2 linked regions of the Homo sapiens genome follow. The protein of the gene in region 1 interacts with the protein of each later gene in a pairwise test. Each region holds a gene or a part of one and is shown in the gene's direction. Other genes may lie near its edges.

Region 1 (3,500 bases):
AAAGATAGAAGGTGATGAGTGACTTAGGTATAAATTAAGTACAATAGAAATGTTGAGGAAAGAAAAATTTCTTGTAATAGAAATCGGAAGTACAAACTGGGCATGGTGGTGTGCATCTCTAATCCCAGCTCCTTGAGAGGCTGGTATGGGAGGATCACTTTAGCCCAGGAGCTTGAGGCTGCAGTGAGGTGTGATCATGTCACCGCACTCCATCCTGGGTGACAGCAAGACCGTCTCTCTTTTTTTTTTTTTTTGAGACGGAGTCTCGCCTATGCTGGAGTGCAATGGCGCGATCTTGGCTCACTGCAACCTCTGCCTCCCAGTTTCAAGTGATTCTCCTGCCTCAGCCTCCTGAGCAGCTGGGATTACAGGTGTGCGCCACCATGCCCAGCTAATTATTTTGTATTTTAAGTAGAGACGGGTTCTCACCATACTGGCCAGGCTGGTCTTCAACTCCTGACCTCTTGTTCGCCCATCTAGGTCTCCCAAAGTGCTGGGATTACAGGTGTGAGCCACCCCACTTGGCCCCGAGCGAGACCCTCTCTCTAAAAAAAAATAAATAAATAAATCATAAACCTGTGGATTATTGTAGCATTGTTTCTCATCTGTCAAAAATATTTCATGACTATGCATAGTTTGAAAAGGCAAGTTTGTCCCTGGGCAATTTTCAAAATATTTCTTTAATGTGTTTTCACAATACTGTTTACCTAATAAATCTTAAGTTTTTAAAAGCAAAATTAAGCCAGTAATTTGAGTCCAATTCCAATCTCTTATGAGTCATTGCTTAAATTTCAAAAGGGTTTTATTTTTTTTTTAGGTTTGTTCTGAGTAATGAATACCCTATTACTATGATACTAGTATCTTCCTTAATTATCCTACTCATTGTCTCAACATTCTGACAGTTGGATTGAGCATATTCGTAAGTAAAATTGTTTTAACTGTATGATGTACTTTGATGTTAAGGTCCGAGTCCCCACATACCTCGGTAGATGTGTTCTTACAGTTTTGTATTCCCTTGAAATGTAACTGTTCTCTATGTTACAGCCTTTATAACCTTCAGTTACTTGAAATGAACAAATTCATTCAAATTCCAGCACTTAAAAGTTTTAAATTACATTTTGGATAAATACCAAAGTGTTTTGTTGATGATGTATGTATAAACAAATTGTAAATATTAAACGTTAGTTGTTACGATTAGACCTATATAAAACATGATATGCAGTCTACTGAATAGCTATCAGCCTCTAACATGTTTAGTGTCATTTAGAAAATGCTTTCTAAATTGCCAAAAGCTGATTGTCTAGGTGATAACAAATTTACCATTTGGAGGAAGTTGACTTTCTCATTTTCATGTCTTCATCAGTCTTACTTGATGAGATTCATTCTTCTAGTCAGAAGAGAGTTTAGACTGCTCAGTTTACTCATATTTTGAGTTAGCTTTTCTATTTAGAGTTCACTTGGTTGTGGAATATTCATTTATAATTTGAATCTACGTTGTGTAATGGGACCTAATTTTTTTTTCCTTTGTTTTTGTTGGAGTCTCGTTTTGTCACCCAGGTTGGAGTGCAGTGGCGTGATCTTTGCTCACTGCAACCTCCACCTTCCAGGTTCAGGTGATTCTCCTGCCTCAGTCTCCCAAGTAGCTGGGATTACAGGCATGCTTCACCACGCCTGGCTAATTTTTGTATTTTTAGTAGAGATGGGGTTTCACCATGTTGGCCAGGCTGGTCTCAAAACTCCTGAGCTCAAGTGATCCTCCTGCCTTGGCCTCCATAAGTGCTGGGATTACAGGCGTGAGCCGCTGAGCCTGGCCCCAGAGTTTGTTTTGTTTTGTTTTCAAGACAAGATCTCACTCTATTGCCCAGGCTGGAGAGCAGTAGTGCGATCATAGCTCACTGCAGCCTGAACTCCTGGGTTCAAGCTATTCTCCTGCCTCCATCTTCTAAAGTGCTGTGATTACAGGTCTGAGCCATGATGCTTGGCCTGTGTTTTTGTTTGTTTGTTTTGGGGGACAGGGTCTTGCTTTGTCACCAAAACTGGAGTGTAGTGGTGCGAACATAGCTAGCTCACTGCAGCCTCCATCTCCCACGCTCAAGCAATCCTCTCACCTCAGCCTTCCAAGTAGCTGAGACCGCAGGTGCGTGCTACCATGCGTGGCTAATTTTCTATTTATATATTTATTTTTTGGTAGACATGAGGTCTTGTCATGTTTCCCAGGTGGTCTTTAACTCCTGGGCTCAGACAGTCCTCCCGCCTCAGCCACCCAAAGTGTTGGGATTACAGGCGTGAGCCACCATGCGTGGCATAATTTTTTTTAAGTAAATTATTTTTTTATCTTGAGTATAGAAGTGATTCATGTTCATTGTGGAAAATATGAAACATATAGAAAAACAGAAAAGATTACAAAACATCTAATCTGAAATGGTTAAGATTTTGATGAGAACAGTCTCATCTCATTTCCGTATATTCCTGCCAGCCTATCCATCATTCTTCGTACATGTTTATCTACATTAAAATTGGTGTTATATTTTGGAAACTTTTTGTTTAACTACATTGTGAACATTTTTCATGTTTTAAAATGTCATTTTAATGATGGCAGATCCTATTCAATAGATGTACACACACCTATTTAACTGGTCCACAATTGTTGGATATGTAGGTCGTTTCCTTTCTCTCTTTTTTTTTTTTTTTGGCTACTACTTAATAGTTTCTCTGTATAGAATGTGGTATTTTGAAAGTGTATCAAGCTTTAGATTGGTAGTATTCTTGCATTTAATAAAGGGCAGTGGCCTTTGTTGACTGACATGACAATATTTTTATAAAATTTGTTATTTGCTTTACAGAAATTTTGAAAATTATTGTAGAAATGTTTTTACCTCATATGAACCACCTGACATTGGAACAGACTTTCTTTTCACAAGTGTTACCAAAGGTATAATACTATTACCTGAAAATACATGTTATAAGGAATCTAGCCTCAGTCTTAGATGATTTATTATTAATTATGGCTCTCTTTTTCTAATATATCAAATATATTCAAAATAAAAATAAGGAGTAAGTAGATCTCATGTGAGACTATAATGGTGTTAGTGTGATCATTAGGCAGTTAAAAACTGTTACAGGCTGGGCACGGTGGCTCATGCCTGTAATCCCAGCTCTCTGAGAGGCTGAGGTGGGCAGATCATCTGAGGTCAGGAGTTCGAGACCACCCATGGTCAACATGATGAAACCTCGTCTCTACTAAAAGTACAAAAAATTAGCTGGACATGGTGGCAGGTGCCTGTAATCCCAGCTACTTGGGAGACTGAGACAGGAGAATTGCTTGAGCCTGGGAGGCGGAGGTTGCATTGAGTCAAGATCGTGCCATTGCACTCCAGCCTGGGCAATAAGAGCGATGCTCCGTCTCAAAAAAAAAAAAAAAAAAAAAAGAACTTATATTTTCAGATTGTGTGGTTCCTTTACTAACTGAATTTAAATTATTTGTAGTCAATTTTAAATGC
Region 2 (3,718 bases), on another chromosome or scaffold:
GTATTTTCTTTGTTTTCCTTCATACTGATTTTCATTTTTATTGTTTGTTATAGAACCTCTAAAATGCAGACCTCCAGCTCTAGATCTGTGCACCTGAGTGAATGGCAGAAGAATTACTTCGCAATTACATCTGGCATATGTACCGGACCGAAGGCAGATGCATACCGTGCACAGATATTACGCATTCAGTATGCATGGGCAAACTCTGAGATTTCCCAGGTCTGTGCTACCAAACTGTTCAAAAAATATGCAGAGAAATATTCTGCAATTATTGATTCTGACAATGTTGAATCTGGGTTGAATAATTATGCAGAAAACATTTTAACTTTGGCAGGATCTCAACAAACAGATAGTGACAAGTGGCAGTCTGGATTGTCAATAAATAATGTTTTCAAAATGAGTAGTGTACAGAAGATGATGCAAGCTGGCAAAAAATTCAAAGACTCTCTGTTGGAACCTGCTCTTGCATCAGTGGTAATCCATAAGGAGGCCACTGTCTTTGATCTTCCTAAATTTAGTGTTTGTGGTAGTTCTCAAGAGAGTGACTCATTACCTAACTCAGCTCATGATCGAGACCGGACCCAAGACTTCCCGGAGAGCAATCGTTTGAAACTCCTTCAGAATGCCCAGCCACCTATGGTGACTAACACTGCTAGGACTTGTCCTACATTCTCAGCACCTGTAGGTGAGTCAGCTACTGCAAAATTCCATGTCACACCATTGTTTGGAAATGTCAAAAAGGAAAATCACAGCTCTGCAAAAGAAAACATAGGACTTAATGTGTTCTTATCTAACCAGTCTTGTTTTCCTGCTGCCTGTGAAAATCCACAGAGGAAGTCTTTTTATGGTTCTGGCACCATTGATGCACTTTCCAATCCAATACTGAATAAGGCTTGTAGTAAAACAGAAGATAATGGCCCAAAGGAGGATAGCAGCCTGCCTACATTTAAAACTGCAAAAGAACAATTATGGGTAGATCAGCAAAAAAAGTACCACCAACCTCAGCGTGCATCAGGGTCTTCATATGGTGGTGTAAAAAAGTCTCTAGGAGCTAGTAGATCCCGAGGGATACTTGGAAAGTTTGTTCCTCCTATACCCAAGCAAGATGGGGGAGAGCAGAATGGAGGAATGCAATGTAAGCCTTATGGGGCAGGACCTACAGAACCAGCACATCCAGTTGATGAGCGTCTGAAGAACTTGGAGCCAAAGATGATTGAACTTATTATGAATGAGATTATGGATCATGGACCTCCAGTAAATTGGGAAGATATTGCAGGAGTAGAATTTGCTAAAGCCACCATAAAGGAAATAGTTGTGTGGCCCATGTTGAGGCCAGACATCTTTACTGGTTTAAGGGGACCCCCTAAAGGAATTTTGCTCTTTGGTCCTCCTGGGACTGGTAAAACTCTAATTGGCAAGTGCATTGCTAGTCAGTCTGGGGCAACATTCTTTAGCATCTCTGCTTCATCCTTAACTTCTAAATGGGTAGGTGAGGGGGAGAAAATGGTCCGTGCATTGTTTGCTGTTGCAAGGTGTCAGCAACCAGCTGTGATATTTATTGACGAAATTGATTCCTTGTTATCTCAACGGGGAGATGGTGAGCATGAATCTTCTAGAAGGATAAAAACAGAATTTTTAGTTCAATTAGATGGAGCAACAACATCTTCTGAAGATCGTATCCTAGTGGTGGGAGCAACAAATCGGCCACAAGAAATTGATGAGGCTGCCCGGAGAAGATTGGTGAAAAGGCTTTATATTCCCCTCCCAGAAGCTTCAGCCAGGAAACAGATAGTAATTAATCTAATGTCCAAAGAGCAGTGTTGCCTCAGTGAAGAAGAAATTGAACAGATTGTACAGCAGTCTGATGCGTTTTCAGGAGCAGACATGACACAGCTTTGCAGGGAGGCTTCTCTTGGTCCTATTCGCAGTTTACAAACTGCTGACATTGCTACCATAACACCGGATCAAGTTCGACCCATAGCTTACATTGATTTTGAAAATGCTTTTAGAACTGTGCGACCTAGTGTTTCTCCAAAAGATTTAGAGCTTTATGAAAACTGGAACAAAACTTTTGGTTGTGGAAAGTAAGTGGGATACTTGGAATCAAGGCATCTCTGTAGTACAGTCTTCTTTATTTTTTAGCATAGAAAGTTGGGGATGTGTTAATTGTATTTTTAAGAATATATTCTAAGTTCTGTACTTCAAATAATAGCACAGATTTTACATCTGATTGACATAGTGTATGTTAATGTAAGTTTTGCTTTCCAGTGATTACCTGATACGTAAGCCTATTTGAACAAAGTGAGAATGAACTTTTGTTTCTAAGAAGTCTTTATCTTGAAGCTATATAACATGAAAAGTGAGCTCAAATTTTTTTTAGTTGAAGATTACATATAAAGTTGTGTCTGATTAATATTCATCTTTTATTGAAGAAAGTGCCTTCTGATGGCCACATAATTCTTAATGTCAGCTAGTATAATGGTTTACATTTGGACAAAGTATTGCTTAGTGTTATTTAAGTAGATTTAAGATCTCAAAGCTAAAGTGCCAATTTTTACTTTCTTCAGCCAATTTGTTACCTCTTTTATGGTTTTTAATTTTTATCAGGACTAACATTTTCAGAAATAGCAAGGTGTGATCTAGTATTAGATTCACAGAACTGAAAGGTTAATTAAGAATGTTGGTTATTTTCACGGGAGCGTGTGATATTTAACATTAATATTTTATTTGACACTACAGCCTGTAATACTGCTCTCTTTCAAAAACAAGTTTTCAGATTTTTATAACAGACCCATTTTGTTTTATGAAACATGTTCATTACAGAAACATGAGAAAATAGAGATAAGTAAAAAGAATAAAAGTCACTATTATCCTACCACTTTGCGGGACACACTATTAATATTTAAGCATAGATTCTTCCAGATGTTTTGTTTTATACAGCAGTAGGATTGTGTAATGTATTCTCTCTTGTAGCCTATTCTTCAAAGCGTATCTTCACTTTCCATGTTAACATAAATGTCCTTTTATGATTGTCTAGGATTCCATGGATGGATGGAATATAATTGAGTCATCTGGTAGAGCGCATATAGGACAGGACGCTAGGTTGTTTATCTTTTGTTTATTGTAAAGGAACTATGTGGGATGCATTTGGTGATCTTTTTAAAAAATGTATAAATTTCTTGAGTAATTCCTGGATTAAAGAATATGCACTTTTTAAAGCTTTTGGCTTGCATTCTAAATTGTCCTCTTGAAAAAGTAGTTCCTGTGTAAAACTCCATCTGCACTGAATCAGAGCTATGGCAGCATTGGGCAGTAGGCAGTTTTGGTATTTGTTGGCATTCTTTTTGCATTTATTCAAAAAACTGAAGGTAGTGAACGTAGAGCAATGAACAACACAAATATCCTTGGTCTCGTGGAGGTTATATTTAAGTTCTAATGTTTTCTCTTGTGAACAGTGCAATTTGAAATGACAAATTGAAACACTTTTAGTTGTTGAATTTAGACAGTTTGTGTATATAGTTTAAATTTTTATTCTTGGTTTGCCTTCTGTTTTTATGTTAAAAGATTGTTGCAATTTTTAGTTTTTCCCTTTGTAATATGTGATTGTCTTTCATTAGAATTCATTTTTTGTTTTGTTTTGGTTATTTTGAAACAGTCTCGCTGTGTTGCCTAGGCTGGAGTGCAGTGGTGTGATCTCAGCTCACTGCAACCTCTGCCT

The links. The genes of interacting proteins can lie anywhere in the genome.
Region 2: the proteins of FIRRM (region 1) and FIGNL1 interact in binary tests that used the Homo sapiens proteins (3 or more experiments, as listed by UniProt).

What each region holds. Positions count from the first base shown.
Region 1 is NC_000001.11:169,798,040-169,801,539, forward strand, and holds part of FIRRM (FIGNL1-interacting regulator of recombination and mitosis), read left to right. Parts: intron 1-817; 5' UTR 818-879; coding exon of another isoform or gene 880-919; intron 920-2,843; coding exon of another isoform or gene 2,844-2,866; coding exon 2,867-2,932; intron 2,933-3,500. UniProt on the Homo sapiens protein: Regulates PLK1 kinase activity at kinetochores and promotes faithful chromosome segregation in prometaphase by bridging kinase and phosphatase activities.
Region 2 is NC_000007.14:50,443,633-50,447,350, reverse strand, and holds the end of FIGNL1 (fidgetin-like protein 1), read left to right. Parts: intron 1-53; 5' UTR 54-63; coding exon 64-2,088; 3' UTR 2,089-3,218; downstream 3,219-3,718. UniProt on the Homo sapiens protein: Involved in DNA double-strand break (DBS) repair via homologous recombination (HR). Recruited at DSB sites independently of BRCA2, RAD51 and RAD51 paralogs in a H2AX-dependent manner. May regulate osteoblast proliferation and differentiation.